Regions from separate parts of the Homo sapiens genome. Here all the other regions are linked to region 2. The links come from fine-mapping of genetic effects on gene expression. A gene starts in region 2. Each other region holds a variant in brackets. All regions are shown on one strand. Distances are from middle to middle.

Region 1 (5,000 bases), 130 kb before region 2:
TTCATTTTCCTATTAAGGAAAATAAACTGTTCGAAGTTGACCTTGTTTTCTGATGCCAGCTCCAGCATTGATCTTTTAGAGATAATGTAGCTATAGTATTGCTGAATTTGTTGGCCATAAAGACACAGCAAAAGAATTAAAGTAGGAACAGGCCAGGTGTTGTGGCTCACACCTGTAATCCCAATACTTCAGGAAGCTGAGGCGGGAGAATTGCTTGTGCCCAGGAATTTGAGACCAGCCTGGGCAACATAGTGAGACCCCTGTCTCTACAAAAATTTTTTAAAAAGCCAGACACGGTGGTGCATGCCTGTTGTCCCACCTACTTGGGAGACTGAGATGGGAGGATTACTTCAGCCCGGGAGTTTGAGACTACAGTGAACTGGCACTCCAGACTGGGTGACAGAGTGAGACCCTGTCCCCCACACCCAAAGAAAAAAAGGAAGAAAGTAGGAACAAAAGAAGCATAAGAAAATAAAAACAATATGAAAATAAATGGGAATTTATCAATAGTCTTGGTAAATGTAAACTGATACCTATGTTTAAAAGAGATTATCACATTGGATTGTAAAAATCTAACTTTATGTTACTTGTAAGAGCTATGCCTAAAATCAAACCACAAGGTAAGACTGAAAATATTAGCCAGTTATAGTGGTGTGTGCCTGTGGTCCCGGCTACTTGAGAGGCTGAGATGGGAGAATTACTTCAACCCAAAAGGTTGAAGTTGCAGTGAACCATGATCATGCCACTGCACTCCAGTCTACGTGATAGAGTGAGACTCTGTCTTAAAAGAAGCCTGGGCGCGGTGGCTCATGCCTATAATCCCAGCACTTTGGGAGGCTGAGGTGGGTGGATCACCTGAGGTCAGGAGTTCGAGACCAGCCTGGCCAACATGGTGAAACCCTGTCTCTACTAAAAATACAAAAATTAGCCAGGCGTGGTGGCCACGCGCCTTGTAGTCCCTTCTACTTGGGAGGCTGAGGCAGGAGAATTGCTCAAACCCAGGAGGTGGAGATTGTTGCAGTTACCTGAGACTGTACCACTGCACTCCAGCCTGGGCGACAGAGTGAGACTCCATCTCAAAAAAAGAAAGAAAAAAATACTGAAAATAAAGGGATAAAAATATACCATGTAAATTCGAACCAAAAGAAAGCTGATATACCAAGTGTAGTATCACAAAGATAGGATAAGGGGGAAAAGCCACTAATAGAGATAAAGAGGGATCCTATCTAATAAACAGTTCATCAATAAGATATAATAGTCATGAACTTGAATGCACCTTACATAGTCATGAAATGCATAAACTAATAATGACAATTACAAGGAGAAACTGACTTTCACAAATATAGTAGCAGATTAAAATTGACCTTTACAGAATACAATCAGAAAAAATTATTAGTAGAGCTATAGACATTTTGAACTATCAGGTTAGTTATTTAGTTGTAATTGACACACAGAACTCGGTATCCAAGAGTGAGATGGTATCGCATACAGTACTAGAACATAATAGTTAAGAGCTCAGCATTTAGTAGCCTGGGTTACCTTGGGCAAATTACTTAATCATACTGTGCTTTGATTTTCTCAACTGTGAAATGGGGATAATAAGCCCACCTTAATAGTCACCATATGGCTATTATGAGGAACATATAAATTAATCCCTATAGTAGCCACTGTATGGCTATTATGAGGAACATATAAATTAATACCTATAAACCTTTAGGATAGTACCTGGGACAAGGTATAGTTATTTTTAGATACATTATCTTAGAATTGAGGTTACACAGACCCAATTCTGTAACTATGGGTTATTCAGGTATTTACGCTAAAATGATAGTTAAAATGCTTGGACATGAAAAAAATACTCATGGAAAAAGTAATTACAAAATATTTAGAATGATGTGAATAATGCCAGATCTTTAAAAAAAAAAAAAAAGTACAAACTGAGCCGGGCGCAGTGGCTCATGCCTGTAATCCCAGCACTTTGGGAGGCTGAGGTGGGTGGATCGCCTGAGGTCAGGAGTTCGAGACCAGCCTGGCCAACGTAGTGAAACCCCATCTCTACTAAAAATGCAAAAAATTAGCTGGGCGTGGTGGCGGGCGCCTATAATCCCAGCTACTGGGGAGGCTGAGGCAGGAGAATTGCTTGAACCCAGGAGGCAGAGGTTGCAGTGAGCTGAGATCTTGCCATTGCACTCCAGCCTGGGCAACAAGAGCAAAACTCCGTCTCAAAAAAAAAAAAAAGTACAAACAAAATAAATGGAAATGAATAATATAAACATAGGAATTTGTGAAATAGAAAAGCAAAAGAACAATAGAGACTATCAATATAATGAAAAAATGGAAAAACTATAGACAAATCTCTGGTAAGACTGATCAGGAAAAATGAAAACAAAAATGAGAAATCAGAAGTGAGTCCGAGTGTAGAGGCTCATGCCTGTAATCCTAGCACTTTGTGAGGCTGAGGCAGAAGGATCACTTGAGCCCAAGGAGTTGAGGCTGTGGTGAGCCATGGTGGCTCCACTGCACGCCAGCCTGGGCAAGGGAGCCTGTCTTAAAAAAAAGAACATAACTACAAATCAGTAGAAATTTAAAAATAACAAATACTATAAACTGTCACACAAATAAATTTGAAAACAGATGAAAAAATTTCTAATAAAAGATAATTAGCCCAAATTATTCCAAAACAGGAAAGGTAGTCAGTAATTATTAAAGAAAGTGGATCTAGAGTAAAAAATCTTATTGTCTCTTGCCTCCTCTCACCAAAAGATATTAAACTGTTGATTTTACAGGTAAGTTTTTCCAGACTTTCTGGAAAGAGCAAATTCTTATATTTTACGAACTCTCAGGGAATACAAAAAGAGAGAAAGCTCTCCAACTGTTTTTATGAGACTAGTAGATCTTCACTACAAGTGAGCAAACACATAGAAAGGTA[G/C]TATGAGAAGAAATTATAGATCTGTCTCAGGAATACAGAAGCTAAAATTTTCAACATCGTAGGTAAAATAAAGGGGGAGAAATACATCATGACCAAGTAGGGTGTATTCCCAGAAATTTATCGGAAAATCTATCATTGCAGTGTACACGTGAAATGATTGTAGAAGAACAGCATTATATTCATTTTGGATTCAGAGAGGTATTTGAGAAATTTGACCACTCAATAACTTAGTAAAGGGCTATTTATCAAACCTTTGGCAAACATAGTTAAGGGTGAATATTTAGCAGCCTTACCATTAATGGTGGGAACATTCTGGGGCAGACCCATGCTCAGTAATTCAGAAATGAGGCATAAGAACTGGAAAGAAAGCAACGAGACTGATTCAATTGTCTGTATAAAGAAACCAGAGAATGTACAACAGATTGTTAGACCTAATAAGAGTTCAACAATTTGAAAGTTGTTCAAACAAAATCAACATACTAAGATAATTGTTTTTCTATGCCCCAGTGATAACCAGTTGAAGAATGCAGTGGTGGAAAAAAGATTGATCCTATTCACAAGAGTAAAAAAAAAGAAAAAAAAGAAAAAGAAAAACTAGTTAGCTACCAATATAGCTAAATAAAGATGGGCAGGGTCCTTATAGACTACATAATAAATGAGGACCTGAATCTGTATTTTCCTGAATGAAAAGATAGAGCATTGGGCCGGGTGCAGTGGCTCACGTCTGTAATCCCAGCACTTTAGGAGGCCAAGGTAGGGGGATCACCTGAGGTTAGGAGTTTGAGACCAGCCTGGCCAGCATGGTGAAACCCAGTCTCTACTAAAAGTACAAAAATTAGTCGAGCATGGTTGCGGAAGCCTGTAGTGCCAATCTCTCAGGAGGCAGAGGTTGCAGTGAGCTGAGGTCGTGCCACTGCACTCCAGCCTGGGCAGTAGAGCGAGACTCTGTCTCACACACACACAGCATTATAAAGTAGACATTGTATCCCCAAATTTTTAAATTTTACTTAAATTTCAATAGGGTTTAATTAGGAACTTGATAATTCAGTTCTAGAAGTAGACTTCATATAGAGAAGTGAAGGAACAGGAAAATACTTAGCAAAATTTTGAAGACAAGATGAGGAGACTTGGCCTACCTACCAGATAGCAGGACCACAGTAAAGCTACTATAATTAAGGTAGTTTGTTACTGGTTTAGGGATAAACAAATGGATCAATAAAACAGAAAGCCCAGAAACAGACCTATATATGTGTAAATTTGATATATGACAGGTGGCATTACAAATCAGTGGGTGAAGAATGGATTGTTAAAAAATACCCTTTTTGGCTGAGTGTGGTGGCTCGCGCCTGCCATCTCAGCACTTTGGGAGGCCAAGGCAGGTGGGTCACCTGAGGTCAGGAGTTCGGGACCAGCCTGGCCAACATGGTGAAACCCTGCCTCTACTAAAAATGCAAAAATTAGCTGGGCATCCGCCTGTAATCCCAGCTACTTGGGGGGCTGAGGCAGGAGAATCGCTTGAACCTGGGAGGCGGAGGTTGCGGGGAGCCAAGATCGCACCATTGCACTCCAGCCTAGGCGACGAGTGAAACTCCGTCTCAAAATAAATAAATTATTATCTGGCCATGTGCGGTGGCTCATGCCTGTAATTCCAGCACTTTGGGAGGCTGAGGTGGGCAGATTGCTTGAGCTTAGGAGTTCAAGACCAGCCAGCACAACATAGTGAAACTCTTTCTTTACAAAAAATACAAAAATTAGCCAGATGTGGTGGTGCATACCTGTAGTCCCAGCTACTCGGGACGAGGCATGAGAATCATGAGAATCACTTGAACCCAGGAGGTGGAAGTTGCAGTGAGCTGAGATTGGGCCACTGCACTCCAGCCCGGGAGACAGGTTTATTTCTAAACCGGTAACGAACTATCTTAATTATAGTAGCTTTACTTCAAGTCGTACTATCTGATAGGTAGACCCACTCTCTCCACCTTGTTGTCTTCAAAAAGATTTCTTTCTTTCTTTTCTCTTTTTTTTTTTTTTTTTTTTTTTGAGTCAGGGTCTTGCTGTGTTGCCTAGGCTG
Region 2 (11,084 bases):
GGCTCAATGTTCTCACTACCAACTGCAAGATAAAAGAGAACTTTTCAGGAATTTGCCCCCAGCACCATACCTGGTGGATCTGGAAGACGGAGACAAGCGCGGCGTGCAGGTAATCATTCTGAGGCTGTTTGGTGTAAAACACCTGGATCGGATGCTGCCGACCCTCTAGGTAGAGGACGGGGGCGCCATTGAAATACTGAGAGAACAGGTCCACATCCATCGTAGCTGACATCACAATCACCTGCATAAGAGAACGAAGAGGAGGACCAGAAACAAATAGTGGGAAGGCCTTTCCGTGTCCCTCTCGAGCCCCAAAAGCAGATGATTGAGGCCTGTGCCACCCCCATCACAGTTTACTTTCTTCCAAGGCTCTGAGCAGAACAGGCAGAGGAAAACACCCTGCTAGAGCACACAGGTCTGTTTCCTTTCCTTTCCTTCTTTTTTTTTTTTTGAGATGGAGTTTCACCGGGCACGGTGGCTCACGTCTGTAATCCCAGCCCCAGCACTTTGGGAGGCCGAGGCAGGCGGATCACGAGGTCAGGAGATCGAGGCCATCCTGGCTAACACGGTGAAACCCCGTCTCTACTAAAAATACAAAAAATTAGCCAGGTGCGGTGGTGGGCGCCTGTAGTCCCAGCTACTTGGGAGGCTGAGGTAAGCAATGGCGTGAACCTGGGAGGCGGAGCTTGCAGTGAGCTGAGATCGCGTCACCACGCTGCAGCCTGGGTAACAGAGTGCAAAAAAAAAAAAAAATCAAGACGGAATTTCAGTCTTGTTCAAGTGACTCTCCTGCCTCAGCCTCCCTAGTAGCTGGAACGACAGGCATGTGCCACCATGCCTGGATCATTTTTTGTATTTTTAGTAGAGACGGGGTTTCACCACGTTGGCCAGGCTGGTCTCGATCTCCTGACCTCAGGTGATCCACCGGCCTCGGCCTCCCAAAGTGCTGGGATTACAGGCGTGAGCCACCGTGCCGGGCCAATTATCTGGATACTTTCAGATCATATTTCTGCCAACTCCCTGAAATACAAGTTGTCTATAAAGTTATGCTATTTAATGAACTTTCACTTTTTTTTTTTTTTTTTTTTTGAGACAGAGTCTCGCTCTGTCACCCAGGCTGGAGTGCAGTGGTGTGATCTCAGCTCACCGCAACCTCCGCCTCCTGGGTTCAGGCGATTCTCATGCCTCAGCCACCCAAGTAGCTGGGATTACAGATGTGTGCCACCACACCCAGCTAATTTTTATATTTTTAGTAGAGACGGGGTTTCACCACGTTGGCCAGGCTGGTCTCGAACTCCTGACCTCAGGTGATCCACCGGCCTTGGCCTCCCAAAGTGCTGGGATTACAGGCGTGAGCCACCGCGCCCAGCCAGGCCTGTTTCCTTCTGTGTGTTACGCATACTTTCAGGGGAAGTTTCCCTCATACTTTCAGGGGAAGTTTCCCTCATACTTTCAGAGGAAGTTTCCCGAGTTCCTTTCTCCTCTTCTGTGCAGCTTTCACCACTCCAAAGAGCACATCTGTGTGGATAGTCCGTTCGTGAGCTTCATCCAAAATGACACAGCTGTATTTCCGAAGCAAAGAGTCTGAAATTGCTTCACGCAGAAGCATGCCATCTGTCAGAAACTTGATCCTGGTGTCTTCTGAGGTGACATCATCAAAGCGCACTGTATAGCCAACCTGTGCAGGGAAACAATTTATTCAGTCACCAAACATTTCTTGAGCGCCCACTGTGTCCGGCACTAAGTTGGGCACTTGCACTACCACAGTGAACAAGACCAACACCAACGCTTCCCACTCCCTTGGGAAGCATGCAGTCTAGCTGCTGAGAGAGACAATGGTCAAGTTTACTTTAACCGCAATTAATGTAACTATTACAAGGAATATTTAAAATTAACCTTCTACCTCAAGCTATTTAATAGTTTCATGTGGGCCGGGTGTGGTGGCTCACACCTGTAATCCCAGCACTTTGGGAGGTTGGGGCAGGCAGATCACGAGGTCAGGAGTTTGAGACCAGCCTGACCAACATGCTGAAATCCCGTCTCTACTAAAAAATACAAAAATTAGCCACTGGGTGTGGTGGCACGTGTCTGTAATCCCAGCTACTCGGGAGGCTGAGGCAGGAGAATTGCTTGGTTGGAGGCGGAAGTTGCAGTGAGCCAAGATTGCGCCACTGCACCTCAGCCTGGGCGACCGAGCGAGACTATCTCCAAAAAAAAAAAAGTTTCATGTGAAGCTATGTACAGATATGAAAAGACGTCTAAGGTATTTTTAAGTGAAATGAGTACACACACACACAAATAAATCTGTCTTATATACAGTTCTGAGACTCATTCTCAATACTCACATATACACTGGCATAATGCTTACAATTTTTCTAGAATGATATATAGATAAGAGAGTTAAGAGAGGTTACTGAAGGCTTAAGATGTTCAAGGAAAGCAACTAATTTATCCAACCTGACGACAGATTTTGAAAGCAAAGCACATGGGACCAATAGAGCCCCTGATCTCTCAGGAGCTGGTAAAGAACTCTCGGAAGAATAGGCAAGAAAGCAGCTCACTATGTAAAAGGAGTCTTGTTTAGAAAAATAAAAGGCAGTGGGCATGGGGAGAGAGCTGTTGAGTCAAGAAGTACTAATAGTCAAGAAGGAACCAGGTACCAGCTTCCCAAGTTCAGTTCTCTTCTCATCTGAGACTCTAGTAGCAAGAGAGATGGCAGCTACTCGACGAGGCTGGGTCACAGCAATGATGCCCTGGCGGCTGATCCCTCCTTCATACAGGTACTGAGGGATCTGAGTTGTCTTCCCAGAGCCAGTTTCCCCTAGGAGAGAGGGGGAAAAAAAAAAAAGGCTCACTGAAATGCAAACTGGGGCTCGGCACCAGGGCTGGCACCTATAATCTCAGCACTTTGGGAGGCCGAGGTAGGAGGCTCTCTTGAGCCCAGGAGTTCAAAATCAGCCTGGGCAACATAGCAAGACCCCGTCTCAACAACAACAACAATTAGCCTGGTGTGGTTGCATGTGCCTGTAGTCCCAGCTACTAGGGAGGCTGAGACAGAAGGATCATGAGGCCCAGGAGTTCAAGGTTACAGTAAGCCATGATTGTGCCACTGCATGCCAGCCTGGGAGATAGTGTGAGACACTGTCTCAAAAAAAATAATAAAAATAAAAAAAGAAATGCAAATCGGCTGGGCACAGTGGCTCATGCCTGTAATCCTAGCACGTGGGGAGGCCAAGGGAGGAGGATCACTTGAGCCCAGGAGTTGCTCCTGGGCAACATAGGGAGATGCCGTCTCTACAAAAAATACAAACATTAGTTGGACGTGGTGGTGCACGCCTGTGGTCCCAGCTACTCTGAAGGCTGAGGTGGGCATATTGCTTGAGCCTGAGAGGTTGAGGCTGCAGTGAGCCATGATCACACCACTACACTCCAGCATGGGCAACGGAATGACACCCTGTCTTAGAAAAACAACAACAACAAAAAGCAAATTGACATAAATTTCACCAAACAAACAGCTCAAAGTCAGAAGTAAAAGATAAAATACCCTGTGTTGGTAAAGCCTCAGGAGAATGGGCATTCAGGTATGTATACTGCTGGTGAAATTAGCTGGTTAATTGGTATTGTTTCTCAGGTGGTCAAATTATGTTTTTTAAATCTTTAAAATGTTTATATCCCTTGACCCACAATTCTACTTGCAGAAATTGATTCTAACAAAATAAGTAAACATGTGTATAAAGATACAGCTTCAAAGAGATTTTATTCAATTTTGCTCCTGACAGAAAAAAATTGGAAACAATATAAATGTTCAAAAGGTAATTTACATAGTTAAAATATAAAATAAAATACAACCGTTACATAGATTTCTGCATACTGACTGACATGAAGAGACATCCATTCATGCACTGCTGCCTTCAACTCCTGGCCACTCCCCAGCCTGCTGCCTCCCTTCAAACCCTCTGCCTCTGCCCACACTATGGGCAGAACACCTGCCCTCACACTGCCTGCCTCGCAAACTCTAAGATGAGTTAGGCCTCAAACACGCTCCCCTGGCTGCACAGTGGCCCTCCTCTGGGCTCCGTAGTGCCTTGTTCATCTCTCTTCCAGCACTGACCATCCTGTGTTGTACAGAAGCGTTTAAATGTGTCCGTCCTCCTCCAACACCAGAAGGGAAGCTCCCAGAGGGCAGTGCTCTGAATGTCCCTCTCGTGTACTTGAGTATTTTGCATACAATAAGCACGCAGTAAATGTTACTTCCTACCCTGTGTGAATTCCTTTAACAGTGCCTGATTAGAGCAAAGAACTCAGTAAACCTGCGCTTCCTTCCCCTCCCTCTAGCTACCACCAGGCCTCTCTGACTTCAAAAAGTCCTCCAGTCCCATGATTTGTGGGTTTTTTTCCCTGTCAGTCTGTCAGCCCCCTCTGACTGCTCATCCTTCCTGACCCAGATAAGAATCAGACAAAGGATTTGATTATTCTGCAATCTTCCTGCTGAATCCACTAGGCAAAACCCCAAACTTTGATCCATGTCTCTATCTTTCATGCTCCTATACCAGGGCAACAGAGCGTTGCTAAAGTAAAATACAAAATGCTTGGAACCAGAAGTGTTTTGAACTTTGGATTCTTTCAAGTTTTGTAATATTTGCATTATACTTACTGGCTGAGCATTTTAAATGTGAAAATCTGAAGTCCTAAATGCTCCCAAATCCAAAACTTTTTGAGCATCTGATATGACACTCAAAGGAAATGCTCCTTGGAGCCCATTCTTGACTTCGGATTTTCAAATTTGGGATGTTCCACCTATAATCTGGCTGTGCAGAAGCAAACCTGAGTTTATAGTGTAGCCGAAATGCACCTAGGCACCACTACTGCCATCGATCTTTTTTCTTGTTTTTGCAGCCTGTCTCGTCTCCATCCTCCCCAAGGGCCCACTTGAAGCCCAGTGACTCCCATTCTGAGCAGGGCTCCTGAACCTGTCTCACAGAAGTGGGGTTCTAAAATGTGGTCTCTCCCTAACTGCCCCTAGAAGCCCTTCTGCAGTGCACCATCCTTACATCCGTTCTCTAGCCCTGCAGCCTCTTAGCCTTCCTCCTCTTCCAGACCAGCCCTGCATCTAGCCCTTGTGGCCAAGTTCCCCCGTCCCCCATGCCTCCTGATCTTTGCTCTGTTAGCTCGATTCTATCTTCTGCCTCCCTCCCTACTGAGTTCTTCCCCTCAACCTCTGAATACAGATGGTCCCTGTCTTAGAACTGTTTGACTTCAGGATGGAGCAAAAGTCAAAATCGTACAGTAGAAACTGTACTTTTGAGTACCCACACAACTGTCACTTTCAGTATGGTATTCAATAAATTGCATGAAATATTCAAGACTTTATTATAAAATAGGTTTCATGTTAGATAATATCACCCAACCATAGGCTAATGTACATGTTCCGAGCACACTGAAAGTAGGCTGGGCATATTAAATGCATTTCCAACTTAGGATATTTTCAACTTATGAGGATGGGTGGATTCATCCACACATAACCCCATCCTAAATCGAGCAGCATCCATAAAGTTTCTCTCAGCTTCCCTCCTTTTTCCTCAAAACAGAAGCCTCTTCCCCCTGCTTTCAGCCCTCAGCTCAATGACAAATCAGCTGTTACCCACACAGCTTTGTTGAAATAGCTCTCGATGGGATGGATCCACGATCAATAGTGTCAGAGATAGTCTGTGAAAGTCATGAAAAATTTTATGAGAGGAAATGTATGCAAGAAATGTTTTACAATTTAAAAGTGATTAGGCCTCCTGAATGCTTTATAAAATGTCACCATAACTCTTAGCTGTAGAACTTGCCTGCTTTGCAGCTAGGTAAAACCTAGGACACATGGAGCTAAATGCTGAAATAAGCCAGACCTTAACTGCACTTCTGTCTAAGTCCTAGGCTGTACACCTAGCACATAATTAAAATCCCGAACTTACCAAGGTTTTCAACAAAGGTAAAGGTTGCTAAAAGTTAACAGTGTAACATGTATTTAAAACTATTGAAGAGACACTTTATGTGCAAGGTGTGTAAGGAAAGTAAAGTACACTTTCGGTAAAAAGATTATCAGGAGGGATAAGAATGCACATTTTTACCTACGTTAAAAGGTTAAATAATTGTTTTGAGGGGGCCAGGTGCGGTGGCTCACGCCTCTTTCTATATCAACCAATCGGGCCTAGTAAAAAGCGCTGCTAAAAAACGTAAAGAAAAGGCTAAAAAGCTAAGGGAGTACCAAAACCACCAAATGGACTCTTGGTTTGAAAACAAAATCATAGCATGGGTCATCCCATTCCTGGGCCCTCTCCTAATAATATGCCTGGAACTAATGTTCTTACCCTGCCTAATTAATCTTTTTCAAAGATTTTTAACTGACAGGATCATGGCAATTTCACAAACAACTACCCAAAAACATCTACAGACGGCATTGCTCCTAGTCAACCCGAGACCAGGAAACTCTCCATCCCCTCGTTGCAGGAAGTAGCCAGAAAGAACATGCCGTCCCTCCTCCTTTTTATAACTATAGGGTCTGGATTGACAAAGCAGGAACATCACCATCTTGGACAAGCCCCTCATTCAAAAGTTCACCTTAATAAAAAACCGCCTAAATCCAAAAGGTATCAGCCTAATGGCTAAGGTCAGCACGACCATAAACCACAAATAACATCTCCAGCCAGAAACATTCCAAACTCCTCCCCGACCAGAGACATGTTAAGGGATAACCCCACTCTGGCCGGGAATATGCCAGCCGGGAATATGCCAGCCGGGAGATAAACCCCCTCGGGCCGGAAAAATGTCTGCCCCAAGATAACATCCCCTGCTCCCAAAGAGTCCAACCCTGCCAAAAACTTCTCCACACATATAAACATTCCAAGCTTGTGATAAGCCCCCTCACCCTAACACCAATATATACTCTTAGTCTGTAAGAGAAAGGGCTCCTGACCGAAATCGGCCAGGAGCGCCTCTCAGGTTTTAACTAAAGAAAAGCTGTCTTTAACTGCCAGCCGCGTTTCGTGTTTCTTTCCTTTTTCTTTAACTCTTACAAATAGCTCACATCCAAATCCAGTGGGCATCACATCCAAGTCCAGTATAACCGGACTTGACTGCTGCATCTGCTCACTCTCTATTCCTTTGACTAGCAGCACTCATGGGTCTCCTTCCTCTCTTTGGCTGCTCATCCTTTCCGTCCTTCAGTATCTCCTCTAACACGTTGGGGATCATAAGCCCCATGAAATCAGTCCCTGCCCCACAACTCTGCCTCTTTTCATGCACCAGAAACTACACCTTCCCTTTCGACCGGAATGTGTTCAGGTTCCCATCTCTCAAACGGGCTTTCCCCCCTGCCTAGAATGCCCTCCCTCCCACACGACCTCCCCAGCCGCCTCCTCACAAACCGGGTCAGATCCACTCTTCTAAGATCCGCAAGCCCCCGGTACGTTTCTCTACCCTTTTACGCGGAAGGTGAGTCTTTGCCTACACACGTTGGTCACTCTCACCGGGCTGTCCAGCGCCTCCAGGGCAGGGCTGCCGGACTCTTCTTCGAGGCCCCTCTCCAGGTCTGGCCCAGAAAAGGTATTCAGGTTTGTTGAAGCCACGAACGAAAGGGATTGAGAGGCATGTAAGAAAAACTGCTCTAGCTAAGCCACGGACGAAGTGCAAGGAAGAGCCCGCCGGCGCGGCCACTCACCGATGAGGACCGCGTTGTCCAGGTTTCGGAGCTGGGCCAACAGTTGCCCCCGCGCTTGGAAGATGGGCAGACTCCGGCGCTGCAGCTCCACAGCTTCAGGGTAGGGACTGGCCGAGGGCTGGGCCAGGGGCGGCTGCTGCCTCCGGCCTCCTCCTCCTCCTCTGCCGCCGCTGCCCGCAGTCAGCAGCATCACCACTTGCCTCCCGGGAGGGAAGGACCCAGCGCGGCTCGGAGGTCCAGAGCCTGGCCGGAATCTCTTGGCCGGCGGGAAGCCCGCCTCCTCCGGCATGTCGGGAGGGCACCGCGGCGGGAGGCGCAAGCGCCGAGAGCTCCTGCCCCCTCTCAGGTGCAGACAACAGGAGCACACCGCCCCTTCCTCGCCGCCACGTGCTGGCGGCTCCCGGCGACCACCGATGACCTCACGGCCGCCCCAGTCTTTAGAAAAAGGGACTGCATCTCCCAGCATGCCTTGGGGGCTTGGGAAGGCTTTCACTTCCTGGGGGTGGGAAAAGCAGGGCCTGAGGTACAACCAGGAAAAGGCCCGGAGCTACAACCGGGAAACACAGGATGTAAGGTTCCGTGGGACTGTAGTCTTGGTTAACGAGGTTTTTCTCATTGTTTTATTTTTTTTTTTTGAGATGGAGTTTCGCTCTTGTTGCCCAGGCTGGAGTGCAATGGCGCGATCTCGGCTCACACTGCAACCTCCGCCTCCTGGGTTCAAGCGATTCTCCTGCCTCAGCCTCCCAAGTAGCTGGGGTTACAGGCGTGCGCCACCGGGGCCCGTCTAATTTTGTATTTTTAGTAGAGACAGGGTTTCTCCATGTTGGTCAGGCTGGTCTTGAACTCCCGACCTCAGGTGATCCGCCTGCCTCGGCCTCCCAAAGTGCTGGGATTATAGGCGTGAGCCACCGCGCCCCGCCCATTGTTTTGTTCTAGTAGCATTACTTCTTTTCAGTAAACCCGCGTTTTCCCCTTCTCTGTCCAAATAACAGTCACTCTTCAAGGAAAGTACTTAATTCTGTAAAATCAATGAGAAGCGCAAACGTGCATTGTCTAATCCTCTAAACAACTTATAAGTTATGTGGTATATACTGGTTATTAGATTATCTCTAATTTACAGATTAAGAAATTGAGTCATCTTAGTCATTCAGATGTCCCCAAATCATAATTTTGTGATCATCTTGTGTTACAGAAAGGAAAACCAATTCTGATATACATGAATTTAACTCAGAAAATGACTCCTCCAACGGATGTGGTCGCCTCCAGTAATACAAGCAGAGAAAGGAGGGAGTTCAATGAAATTAAAATTGTCTTTTATCTTTCCTTTCCCCCAACCATTCCAGCCAGACTCTCAAGTTCTCTACATGGCTGTGCAACCCCATCACAGACACTTCAGTGAAGATTCAGAACTGCAGCAGAAAAAAGTAGGATTATAACTAGTTCTTCCTTACCCTCCTAAAAGTTCTTAGATGATTTGCTAATTTACCACGGAGAATGCCAAGTAGCTGTTTGCTCTTACAGGAAATGTGATTTCCAGAGAATACACCGTAAGCTTCAGCTCATGTGAAGGGTATCTTCTGAAGCTCGTTTCCATGAAACTCGCCCTGTTAAATATCTCCCTTCCCGTGATTCGTGAGAGAGCTAGTCTAAAAACAAAAAACCTCCCCTTTGCTCCAGGTCGGAGATAATTTTCCTCTAGTTGCTGACAGTTTGGTGACCAGGCATTACTGAAAATGTGCACGTTGAACCAGCAGCAGATTTGTGTTTAAGAATAAACTGACAAATTTTCACTTCCTACCCTGAAATATTTAGAAAGGCAACCCAAAACTACAAGGGATAATAAATGTTAACTCTCAAATTATGGACTTTGAGTAAAGACATCCCAGTCCTTTTTCCCAGTGTGCTTTCCAGAGTAACTTAAGGTAGGAGTCCGATGTTCCAAATGATTACAATAATTTAGGTAATGTAAATGGGTGGACTTATTTCTTGATGGAGCACATTCCACCTCTACATGCAGCCCCTAATCATTTCTAGGCAATGGCTGTCATGTAGACCTATTATTGCCAGATCTTCCAATTTTCTCAAGAAAAGCCAAAAGTGAAGATTTTTATCTGTCAATGTTAAATACAGGTTTAAACTTAAAAAAAAAAAAAGTACTGTCAAAACAAAGCACATAGGTAGGTAACAAATCTGTAGGTAACTCATCCATAATCTCTGGCCTAATGATCCAGCTATTCTATAGCCTCAAAGCTAAGAGGACCAAAGAGTGGAAAAATTAAGTCCTATATATGCATCAAGCCATGCTGCTCACATTTCTCCCATTGGTAGACTGAAATCTGCTGTTTCTCCTGAAGAAGTCTCTTGGGGTTCACCAGCTTTCATATGTAGATACTGACAAGCTAATAACTATTCAGAGAATATCCTGGTTCTTCCTTCAAACGACGAAGTGTCAGACACATTTCATTTTTAACTTGTCTGGGATGGTCTGTGGACTTAACTGGTCTGATCACGACCATAACAGCTGGTGGTCACCTTTGCTTTTCCGACCACCAAATTACTGCCCTTGATCATGTTCAGTTTCCCTCTATCCCACTTTCAGAGACAACCACAAGCTTCAGCAACTAGGCTCAAGCTTGCATGCATACACTTTAATCCCTCTATAATTAAAAATACCAGATAATACTTTGCTGATCAATAAACAAAGGTATTTATTCAGCACCCATGTGCCAAGCACTGTGCTAGGCACTGTGGTGGATACAAAAATTAAGACATGGTCCCTGCCCTTAAGGAGCTTACATTCTCATGAGGGAGACAAGACTAATATACATGTACCAGCTAGGAACAGTACAAGACAATATATAATTTGGCGTTAAGAATGTCATACAGACTTGAAGCTTTATAGGGATTCAGAGACAGACAATAAAATAGGCCTTAGAGTCAAGATTTTTTGAGGAATCAGGAACAAGGCCAGGCCTTGAAGAACTGAAGAGACTTAAGTTGAGGTCCCTGTTAGGTAGAAGTGGGAGTAAAGTTAAGAAAAAAACAAGTATGCATATAATGTAGGGGCTTACTAAGAAGTCACTGTGGATTTCTGAGCAGAGGAGTGACTTGATCATACAAGATTCAACAATTTTATTGCAAACTCATAAAATATGTTTAAGTAGCCTGGAGACATCCTACAGAACACAGAAAATAATGGCAGGATCATGACTAACAACATAGCTGGAACTCACCTGTCAAAGAAAAACAGCTACAACATAAAACACTGGCAGGATAGATGACAATAGTTCTAGGAAGCCCATTACTCAACATGGCAATAGCTCCAATGCTTCCTTATTTTCAGAGGCCCCAGAGACTGAGGGTTTCATTATCCAGACCCAGG
Region 3 (11,084 bases), 22 kb before region 2:
CCTGGTCTACGTTTTCCCTCTGTTGAACGCAAACCACACCCCCGGCCCGCTAAACCTCACCGTCGGTGTGCAGCGAGCCGCAGCCACAGCCACAGGCGCAGGGTCCGCGAGGCCGCAGGAGGCCCGGCCGCCGCTCGGAACCTGCGCGCACGCTGAGCAGCCCGAAGGGCCGGGTGCACAGCCGGGGTGCCGGCTGCAGGAGCTGCCGGAAAGGCGAGGCGGGCGCGGCAGCGCGGAGGCCGGCGACGGAGGAGCCCAGCACACGGGGCACGCAGCGCAGCAGAGGCAGCATCGCGGAAACGACTGCGAACACGTGCAGATGCAAAGGACAACCCAGGCCTAGGCGCCCCGCGACCTGAGGCGCCGCCGGAAGCCCCGCCCCTGCCCGGAAGCGCTTCCCGCGCCGGCGCTCTGACGACCTAAGGCCAGCGGGCGGAATCGCGCCCTCTGCTGGAGACTCCGGTGCAGCCCGGGAAGCCTCGAATCCGGATTCCGGAGCTTTCTTGCTGCGCTGCCGAGTCCGCTGTCCGAAGCTGTTTAATTCCCTCTAGTGGCCGCTTACCCACTTTCCACCTGCTGTTCTCAAAGCACGCAAGGCTTTTGGGCTGCGTGGAATGCACTCTTGTCTCCCGCCAGCTCTCACCAGACCCTTCCACGGTCACTTTCCTCTAGGAGGCTGTGGTGTTATGATATATATATGTATTGGTTTTCATCCACAGTTCCTGGGTCGTAACTCCTATAGCCCTTGTTACAATGTTCTGTGATAATGTTGGGTGTGTTAGGCCTCAGGAAACAGACTCTCCCCTTCTCCTGCCCTCCTTTTACCTGCCCCAAAGCAGGACTCTAATCTCCTTCCACATTTCTGATTATGGGTCTTAAGTCCCTTCCCAGAGAAGGTCCCACCATATACCCTGGGGGAAGGGATGCTGATGTCCAGAAGCTTCCATAAAAACCCAAGAGGAGAGGGTTTGCAGAGCCTCTGACAGCTGAATACGTAGAGGTTCCTGGAGGGTGGTGGCCCAGGGTAGGCAAGGAACCTCGGAGCTTCTTCCCCATTCCCCACCCTGCTCATCTCATCTGTATCCTTGGTCATATCCTTTATATGAAACCGGTGAATGTGTTTCCCTGAGTTCTGTGAACTGCTCCAGTGAGTTAACATAATCCAAAGAGGGGGGTCGTGGGAACCCCAACTTGAAGCGGGTTGGTCGGAAGTTTCAGAGGCCCAGACTTGCCATTGCTGTCTGAAGGTGGGGGCGGTCTTGGGGACTGAGCCCTCAACCTATGGGATCTGACACTATCTCCAGGTAGATACTGTTGGGATTGAATTGGAGGACACCCAGCTGGTGTCTGCTGCTTAGTGTGGAGGGGAAAAACCCAAACCTTTGGCCACATAAGTCTTCTGTGTTGATTGTTGTGTTGTGAGAGCAAAGGAAAGTCTGAGGGTTTTCCTGAAAGAGGCCTTCTAGAACCTTTTTTTCCACCGGCTCGGAACTCATGCTTGTGCGCACCCAGCCCATATGCTTCATTCTCTTTTCAACAGGAACCTCCTAGCGTTGCTGCTTTAACCAGGTTAAACCCAACCAGACTGTGACATCCTCAAGGGCAGGATCCATGATTAATTTTTGTGACCTTCCCTCTCTGCACCTCCAACCTTGCATCCAAGTTCTAATGGAACATCATTTTTCTGGGGACAAGAAGCCAGCTTATATCATTTAGATAAGTCCAGAGGCTTCCATAAAAACCCGAGGACAGGGTTTGGAGAGCCTCTGATAGCTAAATACATGGAGGTTCCTGGAGGGTGGTGGTCCAGGGACGGCATGGAGGCTGGGAGCTTCTTCCCCATTCCCCACCCTGCTCATCTCCTTATCTGTATCCTTGGTCATATCTTTTGTATGAAACCGGTAAATGTGTTTCCCTGAGTTCTGTGAGTTTCTCCAGTAAATTAATATAACCCAAAGACAGGGTTCAGATTTATTAAAAATCAACAATCCTACCTTCCCAGGATATACAGGACATATAAGCTACTAAGAAGGTATGTCTTACTAACTCATGGTAAGACTAACACTTAATATTTTCTAAATAATTTTCTATGAATAATGGAAAAGAGATGCAAGAAACAAGCCACACACATCATATACAAGATTCATTTTTAATGGATTTGATCGTCGGGTGCAAATTTGAGCATTATTTACAAGAGCTTTCTGTAGAGTTATTTCTGTTCAAATAAAACCAGACTCTCAAAATACAACATAAGCCTGAACCTACTTGATTTTTTTTTCTCCCTCTAGTTACCAAGGAATATCGTATCTCAGATGCATGGCCTACTATCACACTGGTCTTTAAAGAAAAAAAAAAATGCATGGCCACAGTTCCAGGCAGTTCCTGGTAGCTGGATTTAGTGGATTTATATATGACAGTACAGTACATCATCAGTTTCACCCACAGGGCAGAACTTGCCTCCATTCAGGCATCTCTTTACAACTGGCAGCAATGCAGCATTAAGGGTTTTTAGCCAGGACCTGCTGTTTGCAGTCCTGCCCCTTGTAGTGTTACTCTGGGTGTTGCACACTCCATGATTACTAGAAGACAAACACCTGAGGCATGCAATCTGCTTGGAGTGCATCTATTTACATGAAGCTGCTCACGGGAGCTGGTGATTCTTCCAGATATGGGTTTCGTAGGTTGGCAAAGAGTTATCACACCATCAGAGATTTTACCAATGGAAAGAGAGTAGCTGAAGATTATATTGCAATGTTATTGTGAAACATTTAACTTTCTTAAGTTTAAAGTGTACTATCTCCTGCAGCTCAATATAAACAACGATGTATTTCTTTGTAGCAGTATGTGGAGTCAGAATGGGTTTTCCAATCTGATTTAATCCCTGAGCAGCTATGTTAAAAGTTAACTTTTTAAAAAAGCCCAATAAAAAACTAAATACTGTATTAAAACTCTACCACAATGTTACAGGGATAAACTTATTTCTGTACAGAAACATTAAAGCTACTTAGAAGCTGTTTACATCCTTTGCCTCTCAGAAAAAAAATATACATTTCCGGAAACTGTTCAGGTACTTAAGCTGGACATAAATTACCCCAAGTTTTTTCTTTTTCTTTCTTTCTTTCTTTTTTTTTCTGAGACCGTCTCACACTGTCGGCCAGGCTGGAATGCAGTGGCGTGATCTTGGCTCACTACAAACTCTGCCTCCCAAGTTCAAGCAATTCTTGTGCCTCAGCCTCCCCGGTAGCTGGGATTACAGGCGTGTGCCACCATGCCCAGCTAAGTTTTCTATTTTTAGTAGAGACGGGGTTTTGCCATGTTGGCCAGGCTGGTCTTGAACTTCTCAAGCAATCCACCCACCTCAGCCTCCCATCCCAATGCTGGGATTACAGGCATGAGGTGATCCGCCCGCCTTGGCCTCCCAAAGTGCTGGGATTACAGGTGTGAGCCACTGCGCCCGGCCACCCCCCAATTTTTTTTTTTTTTTTTTTTTTTTTACCAGCACTATGAATGATTAAAAATACAATATTTTTCTTACTAAGTAGGACTAAACATTCTAATCCCCTACTGGAAAACAAAAAACAAAAAACAAAAACTGGAAAACTTTTCAGAAAGTCAGCAGTGGTAACAAGTCAGTAAGTGGAAGAACTGGTTCAAAGTTTAAGAATTCAGTAAGATAAGGTATATAGGAGCTGTCAGATCTTCTTTTGCCCACGTATAACCATTTCTGACAGACAGCCCTAAACACTAGCTGAGAGCTTGACTGCACAGGACCACGGCTAGTGTTGGAAATAAAGACTGAGCCGGACTTGACATACACAACTCCGGACAGATGGGACCCTGGAATGGGGCTGCTCCATCAGGCCACAGCTTCCAGAAAGAGAGCATCCATGATCTCTGAAGAGCCTCTTGGGCAGCTTGGCCCCTGGTTATAACTATGATTCATTCATTAAGAAATGACAAAACACCCCACAGATGTATTTGGACCAAGTAAGCACAATAAAAGAGCTAAATCACGGCTTCTTCTAGGGCAAAATATTATCTGGGGAAAGATTACTTGCTTCTGATAATTAAATAGCTAAGAGGAACCGTTAGTGCCTTTTCTCTGCTCAGAATATCAGAACAGGAACAGACTGTGGATATCCTCCAATTCCCTCTGACAATGAGGGTTAGAGAGAGGTGCCTAGCAGTTAGAAAGCAGCAAAGCCAGATTGTCCCAAGTCCCTACGAAGAAGGAAAAAATATCATAGAAAATTAATAAGATGCAAGAATAAGTGTTACAGCTCTAGCTCTTTTAGAATTTGTCCAGCAGGTCTTCTAGACTTCACTGAACTGCCCCCCACCCCCCCCGCCCACACACCAAAAAAGATACAAGAATGTAAGCCCAGATGTGGTGTGGTATCTGGCATAAGCCAATGTTCTCTGGGTTCTAGGTACCCCTCTCCCCTCCCCCACCCCCACCCCCTCTGACCAGGGGACTGCCCGAAAAGAAACAGCTGAAATGGTACACAGTCACTCCTCATGCCCGCATGTTCACTGGTGCCCAGTTAGAGAGAAAAATGGCAACTGTGTATGTGGGAGTCACCTACACACACAAAACACTGATAGGTCAGTTTCCCATGTCTACACGTGACAGGATTCAGAAGGTACAAATCAACCTTCACCCAGGAAGCTTACATGTCTCCTGAAAGCACTGACAGGGTCACGCACTGAGGACCAGGAGGCTCCTTTACTGGTCTCTGCTTGGAGACAGACACAGAGTGGTCCACCCTGAGACACAAGCGTTCAGTAGGGATCGCCATCCCAGGAGGTACGAGATAACAGCACCTCCCTCTGGAAACTTCTACAGAAGTCAGTTTTGTTTTCTATTTTAAAACTGCATTCAGAGAGACATTAAACAAGAACTAAGGGCAACATCCAAGCTCCGCAACCTCCTGTGGCCCTTCCAGAAAATCTCCCTCAGTCACAAGAACTTGGGATATTGCTGTACTTCACATCATATGGCAAGCAGTAACATTCAGCCTAACGGCTCCCAACTCACTGTACGTGTG[TCGTG/T]CGTGCTCCAGGCATAGTTCTGGGTACTTTCCATTCCTTTTCTCTAAACTTTATGAACCCAATTTTATAAGGATTATTATTATTACTCCCATTTGGCAGATGAGAAAACTGAGGCTCAGGTGTTAAATTAAGTCAAAGTCACCCAGTAAGAACCAAAAGCATAATTTTGAGGTTTCCAGGTACAAATGATATGTCCATGTCTATATGGTTCAGTCCCAGGAGTTGAGCAAAGATGCTTTCACGCTCCTGGAAGTCAGGCACCTTCAGCTGATTCCAAGGCTTCTCTAAGCGCCAACCTGGAAGCCTGCTGTAAGGACAACTGTAGTCCAAGCTCCCAGGGACCAGTGATTCTGGCGGCATCCTGGGGCGGCTCAGTTTCTGGCGGTTCTCAGCTTCCTCCTAAAGTACTCAGGGGCAGCCTCGTACAGCCACTGTGCATCTATGACGCAGAGGTCCCGCATGTAGCACTTGTTGGTGTAGAGCAGCTCAGTGTACACGACGCAGGCCGGCTTGCAGTGGAAGAGGACAGACGACGGGTGGATGGCCACTGGCTGGTGGGTGTCCGTGGTGGCATAGGTGCCATCTGGCTGAAGCTCGGCGGTGCTCATGAAGAGGCTGTGAGCCAGGCAGCGGCGGACACTCTCCACGTCTCCTCGGGATGATGCGATTGGCATTGACATCTGTTTCGGGAGAAAGCGAGGAATGGAGCCGACCCCACACGTAAACACTGGTCAGCACTACACAGCGTGTTGGGGCAACTGGACCCACTGGGGCAAAAGCAGCCCACATTGTGAGCCTAACGATGTGGATTCTGACATTCGGAGGTGGTCACCAAGGATCAGCAAGGTCAGGGGAAGAAGGCCCAGCTGGAGGAGCACGGACCAGAAACAGGGAAACTACCGCCTGTGAAGGTAGGGCTGGGAGGGAGGTGCTCACATTAGCCACCAGACCACAGGCAGGTTGGGTGACCCACCCCTCACCTAAATTCCATCAGGACGGCCCGGAAAGGAAAGGCCCTTCCCTCTCGCTTTGACCATCTCACCATCTCCTCACTCCGATTCACCCACCTGCTGCTGCCAAGCTAATCTACCTAAAGCACAACTCGAATCACTCTTCATCCACTCAAATACCTTCAACAATGTCTCTACTGCTCCTTGCAAAACAATGCAAACTTCCCGTGGTGAAGCCACGAAGGAGCCACCCTGAGCTGCTCGCCTGTCTTTCCTCTCACCGCTCTTTTTCTTTCTTTCTTTTTTTTTTTTTGAGGCTGAGTCTCCCTCTGTCACCCAGGCTGGAGTGCAATGGCGCAATCTCAGCTCATTGCAACCTCCACCTCCCAGGTTCAAGCTATTCTCCTGCCCTAGCCTCCCAAGTAGCTGGGATTACAGGCGCCTGCCACCACGCCTGGCTAATTTTTGTATTTTTAGTAGAAACGGGGTTTCACCATTTTGGTCAGGCTGGTCTTGAACTCCTGACCTCAAGTGATCTGCCCGCCTTGGCCTCCCAAAGTGCTGGGATTACAGGCGTGAGCCACCGCGCCCGGCCTCACCACTCTTCTTTAGACACTCCATGGTCCCCCATAGCTGGCTGCCTTCTCTTTCCTCGCCCCGTTTCATGATTCCTATCTGTGCCTTCACATTTGCTACTCTTAGTAGAAATGCTGCCTGTCTCATCAGAGGAAATGTCAGTCACCAGTCAATGTCCTTGTTCTACTGCTCTTGATGAGTGGGGCATGTAACCTACGCCCCTGGGCACAGATGAACAAACCAGTGGTACACACACGCTGGACCTAAGCTGGCCAGCTTTTCTCTTCCAGGCATCTTTTAGGTTTGAAACTGGAAAACTTGTCAATCTCTGCTGGGCTCTTGAGTGGAGGGGCCATGCAGAGAAATCACTTCCATGCGGAGGTAAAGGTGAGAAAAGGGAAGGAGGCACGCAGAGGGCACTCAAAGCAAGAGAAGCAGCAGGTCCAGAGAAAGTGGCGGGCCTGGCTCCTGCAGGCTTTTTCTGGTTCCTGTGACTCTATTTCCTGCCTATCGGTTCTCAGAGATACCTTTCCATCCTTGGAAGAATCTTTATTTTGTCCTTTATGATGGCTCTAGGGTTTCTGTTGTTGACAATCAGCTGATCTATGCCTGAAGAAGATACTTTTTTTTAAGAGACAGGGTCTCACTCTGTTGCCCAGGCTGGAGTGCAGTGGCACAATCCCAGCTCGCTGGCAACCTCTGCCTCCTGGGTTCAAGCGATTTTTGTGCCTCAGCCTCCTGAGTAGCTGGGGTTATAGGCATGCACCACCACGCTCAGCTTAGTTTTGTATTTTTAGCAGAGATGGGGTTTCACCATGTTGGTCAGGCTGATTTCGAACTCTTGGCCTCAAGCAATCCACCTGCTTGGGCCTCCCAAAGTGCTGGGACTAGAGGCATAAGCCAGCCACCACACCTGGCCTGGAAGATACTCTTTTATCTCCTTATCTGTCAAGATCTAGCTCAGTTGTCACCACCTCCAAGAAGCCCCAGAGGCTAACTGGTGGTCTCTCCTTCCAGACTATCAGCTTTACCACTCACTGGCTGAGTGATTTGGGGCAAATTATTTAACCTGATTAGGCTTAGTTTCATCATTTGTAAAATGGGAATAACAAAAGAATCAATCTTATAGGTTGAAATGAGGATTTTATCCTTTGGGTTAAGGTCTGAGTTGAAAAAGAAAAAAAAAGAAATGAGGAGTTTAAATAAGGCAGCCACATAAAAAGTACTCAGAACAGTGCTGAACAAACACTTCATGAATGATAGTGATTATTTTAATTTGATGGCCTCCTGGCATGAGTGTATGTACGTCAGGTCACCATCTAGATTATTACTTAGTTACTGAGTAGGCATGTCTGTAAAGTCTCAGGACCTTACCAGTGCCTGACATATAATGAGAGGTATCCCTGGCCACTACAGGGTCCTAAATTCACAACTAATAGAGAAGCACCGTTTCTACTGTCAATGATAAATTGAGAAAACTTATGAAGCCAAGAGACAGACTGGCAGGAAACTGTTCAAATACAAAAGCAGTTTAAAAAAATGTGTGAAAGACAGAATACAATAGGCTACTATGAGAAGAAACAGCTCTAGTGCCAACCGTAGGCCGTTGGCATCAGACACAGGCCTGGGTACAGGCTGTGACTGTCTCCCAGCAGCGTCCGCACTGAGGGGGCACAAGACATTCACCACAGAGTACTCAGGACAGCAGCAAACACACGGACACTGTCTCAGTGATCAACAGCAAAAGAACACTTCCGCTACCCTCTATCTCTGACATAAAATGTGGAGTGTCATGCGAGCATTAAATATACCATGACAGCTCTTTAAAACACCATGTACTCTAAGAGGGAATAAAAAGCTAATATAAAACTTTGTGGGCCGGGCACAGTGGCTCACACCTGGAACCCCAGCACTTTGGGAGGCCAAGGCCAGTGGATCGCCTGAGGTCAGGAGTTCGAGACCAGCCTGGCCAACATAGTGAAACCCCGTCTCTACTAAAAATACAAAAAATTAGGCCGGGCGTGGTGGCTCACGCCTGTAATCCCAGCACTTTGGGAGGCCAAAACCATCCTGGCTAACATGGTGAAACCTCGTCTCTACTAAAAATACAAAATATTAGCCGGGTGTGGTGGGTCATGCCTGTAGTCCCAGCTACTCGGGAGGCTGAGGCAGGAGAATTGCTTGAACACGGGAGGCAGAGGTTGTGGTGAGCCAAGATCGCGCCACTGCACTCCAGCCTGGGCAACAAGAGCAAAACTCCGTCTCAAAAAAAAAGAAAGGAAAAAAAACACTTTGCGGTGGACACTTTGGCAATATCTAACAAAATCCAAATTCCCCCATCTAGAAATTCATTCTGTGTGCACCACAGCACATACGGAGGATGGTCACTACAACAGAATCTAAATGACCATTATTAGAGGCTTAAATAAACTGCACTGAATACAATGAAATGCTATGAAATCACTAAAATGAATGAGCTAGACACATGCAGCACTGAAAGCCCAGCCACAGGAAGGATTTGAGAAATACGCATGTGAGGCCAGGCACAGTGGCTCACACCTGGAATCCCAGCACTTCGGGAGGCCGAGGCGGGCAAATCACCTGAGGTCAGGAGTTCGAGACCAGTCTGGCCAACGTGGTGAAACCCCGTCTCTACTAAAAATACAAAAATTAGCCAGGCGTGGTGACGCACGCCTGTAATCCCAGCTACTCGGGAGGCTGAGGCAGGAGAATCACCTGAACTCGGGAGGCAGAGGTTGCAGTGAGCGGAGGCTGTGGTGAGCCAAGATGGTACCACTGCACTCCAGCCTGGGTGACAGAGCAAGACTCTGTCTCAAATAATAAACAAGAAAGAAAGAAAGAAAGAAATATGCCATGTGGAAGAAAGGAAGTTGTGGAACATGTACCTCATATGCACGTATCCGTTATGTGTGTGCTCACACACAGGCACAGAGACATGCACAAAAACATACATACACAGAAACAAATTCTAGAAGGAGCTACCCCAAACTGTTAACAGTAGTTATCTCTGGAGGGGCAGGATTATGGGAGACTTTTAAACTTTCTACATTATAAATCACTATTTTCTGCATTGTGTCAAATACTATACACAACTTTGGTAATCTAAAAGGAAATAATGCAGATATTCATACTTAAAAAAAATCTTATGAAGAATTCTAACACTGGAAAATGCTTATAAAGATTATAAAACCAAATATAAATTATACATATAATTTACTATGTAAAAAAATACAATAAAAACTAGGCTATTAGGAAATAGGCTAAACTACTGAATTGTGGAATTGTGGGTAACTTCCTTTTTTCTTATTTGTGAAATTTGCTACAATGAGAAATCCTTTTATAATCACTAGCAATAAGCAACTTCAAAATTTCTACCTTGAACAAAGTGACAGCTTTGTCACCCACAGAACACTAGGACCAGACGATACCTTTAAGCAGATGTCCCTCAGCTGTGCTCTGACTTCTGCTACCAGCGTCATATTCTTGCTGTTGACAAAATTCTCTTTGCACCAATCCTGAATAGGAGAAAGAGTGATATCACAATCCACTCATTCACCATTTATATGTTCACAGAGACGGGGTCTTGCTCTGTTCCCTAGGCTGGAGTGCAGTGATACAATCATAGCTCACTGCAAACCAATCCTCCCACCTCAGCCTCCCAGATAGCTTGAACTATCTGCACATGCCACCATGCCCAGCTAACAATCCTCTCATCTCTATAGAGAAAATATAACAACATTTTTAGAACACAGTTGAATTCAGAGAAAAAACTTCAGGTGCCAAAAAGAAACGTAGGAAAATATCTTTATATCAAAAAACATGAACTATAAGAAAAGTGTTAATAATTTAAACTAAAGAAAAACTTGAAGTTTCCCAGATTGGGATATTTGTCTCATCATACCCAATAAATGATTAGAATCTCTAGAATTGATTTTAAAAGTTCTACAAGTCATTAAGAAAAAGACCAACGACCCAGTAGAAAAATGGACAAAGGATATGAACAGACACAGAAAACAAAACAGAAATGCCCAGTCAATTTATGTAAGACTTCTTTCTTTTTTCTTTTTTTGGAGATAGATAGAGTCTCGCTCTGTCACCTAGGCTGGAGTGCAGTGGCACGATCTCGGCTCACTGCAACCTCTGCCTCCCAGGTTCAAATGATTCTCATGCCTCAGCCTCCCGAGTAGCTGGGATTACAGGTATGCACAACCACGCCCGGCTAATTCTTGTATTTTTAGTAGAGACGGGGTTTTGCCATGTTGGCCAGGCTGGTCTGGAAGTCCTGGGCTCAAGTGATCCACCTGCCCTGGCTTCCCAAAGTGCTGGGATTACAAGCTTGAGACACTGTGCCTGGCCCTGGGCAAGTTTTTCAACTGCACGAAGCTTCGTTTCCATGACTACATGTTTCATGAATATAAAAAATAATAATTATAGTGCTCATTTCTTAGGATTACTTTACTGAATAAATGAGATCTTACATTAAGA

Which allele goes with the higher level. Alleles are on the strand shown, and positions count from the first base shown. SD is a standard deviation of normalised expression in the study named.
In carriers of allele C in region 1, the expression in sun-exposed skin of the gene that starts at base 8,114 in region 2 tends to be higher than with G alone (small effect, 0.32 SD a copy in GTEx).
In carriers of allele T in region 3, the expression in thyroid of the gene that starts at base 8,114 in region 2 tends to be lower than with TCGTG alone (small effect, 0.23 SD a copy in GTEx).

Evidence for each region. PIP is the estimated chance that this variant, and not a neighbour inherited with it, causes the effect.
Region 1: its variant is the best candidate, but not a certain one, in a credible set for the expression of DHX33 in sun-exposed skin (GTEx, PIP 0.57).
Region 3: its variant is the best candidate, but not a certain one, in a credible set for the expression of DHX33 in thyroid (GTEx, PIP 0.51).

Annotation. Positions count from the first base shown.
Region 1 is chr17:5,338,725-5,343,724 of GRCh38, forward strand. The region is part of intron 5 of RABEP1 (rabaptin, RAB GTPase binding effector protein 1); the gene reads left to right. Among named protein-coding and RNA genes, the nearest start is that of RABEP1, 59 kb to the left of the region's middle. The variant G/C (reference allele first, on the strand shown) is at 2,930.
Region 2 is chr17:5,460,869-5,471,952 of GRCh38, forward strand. DHX33 (DEAH-box helicase 33) reads right to left here and starts at 8,114. Exons shown (of 12, transcript NM_020162.4): 1 at 7,703-8,114; 2 at 2,661-2,821; 3 at 1,451-1,678; 4 at 71-241. The coding sequence starts at 7,991. DERL2 (derlin 2) reads right to left here. Exons shown (of 7, transcript NM_016041.5): 7 at 10,386-11,084. DHX33-DT (DHX33 divergent transcript) reads left to right here and starts at 8,224. Exons shown (of 3, transcript NR_135644.1): 1 at 8,224-8,271; 2 at 9,046-9,126; 3 at 9,224-9,492. RefSeq lists enhancers at 7,166-7,748, 7,538-7,757, 8,138-8,207.
Region 3 is chr17:5,438,782-5,449,865 of GRCh38, forward strand. DHX33 (DEAH-box helicase 33) reads right to left here. Exons shown (of 12, transcript NM_020162.4): 11 at 10,028-10,114; 12 at 2,136-5,732. The coding sequence ends at 5,424. It overlaps C1QBP (complement C1q binding protein), which reads right to left and starts at 374. Exons shown (of 6, transcript NM_001212.4): 1 at 61-374. The coding sequence starts at 292. RefSeq lists silencers at 41-90, 201-370, 349-531 and an enhancer at 591-770. The variant TCGTG/T (reference allele first, on the strand shown) is at 5,049.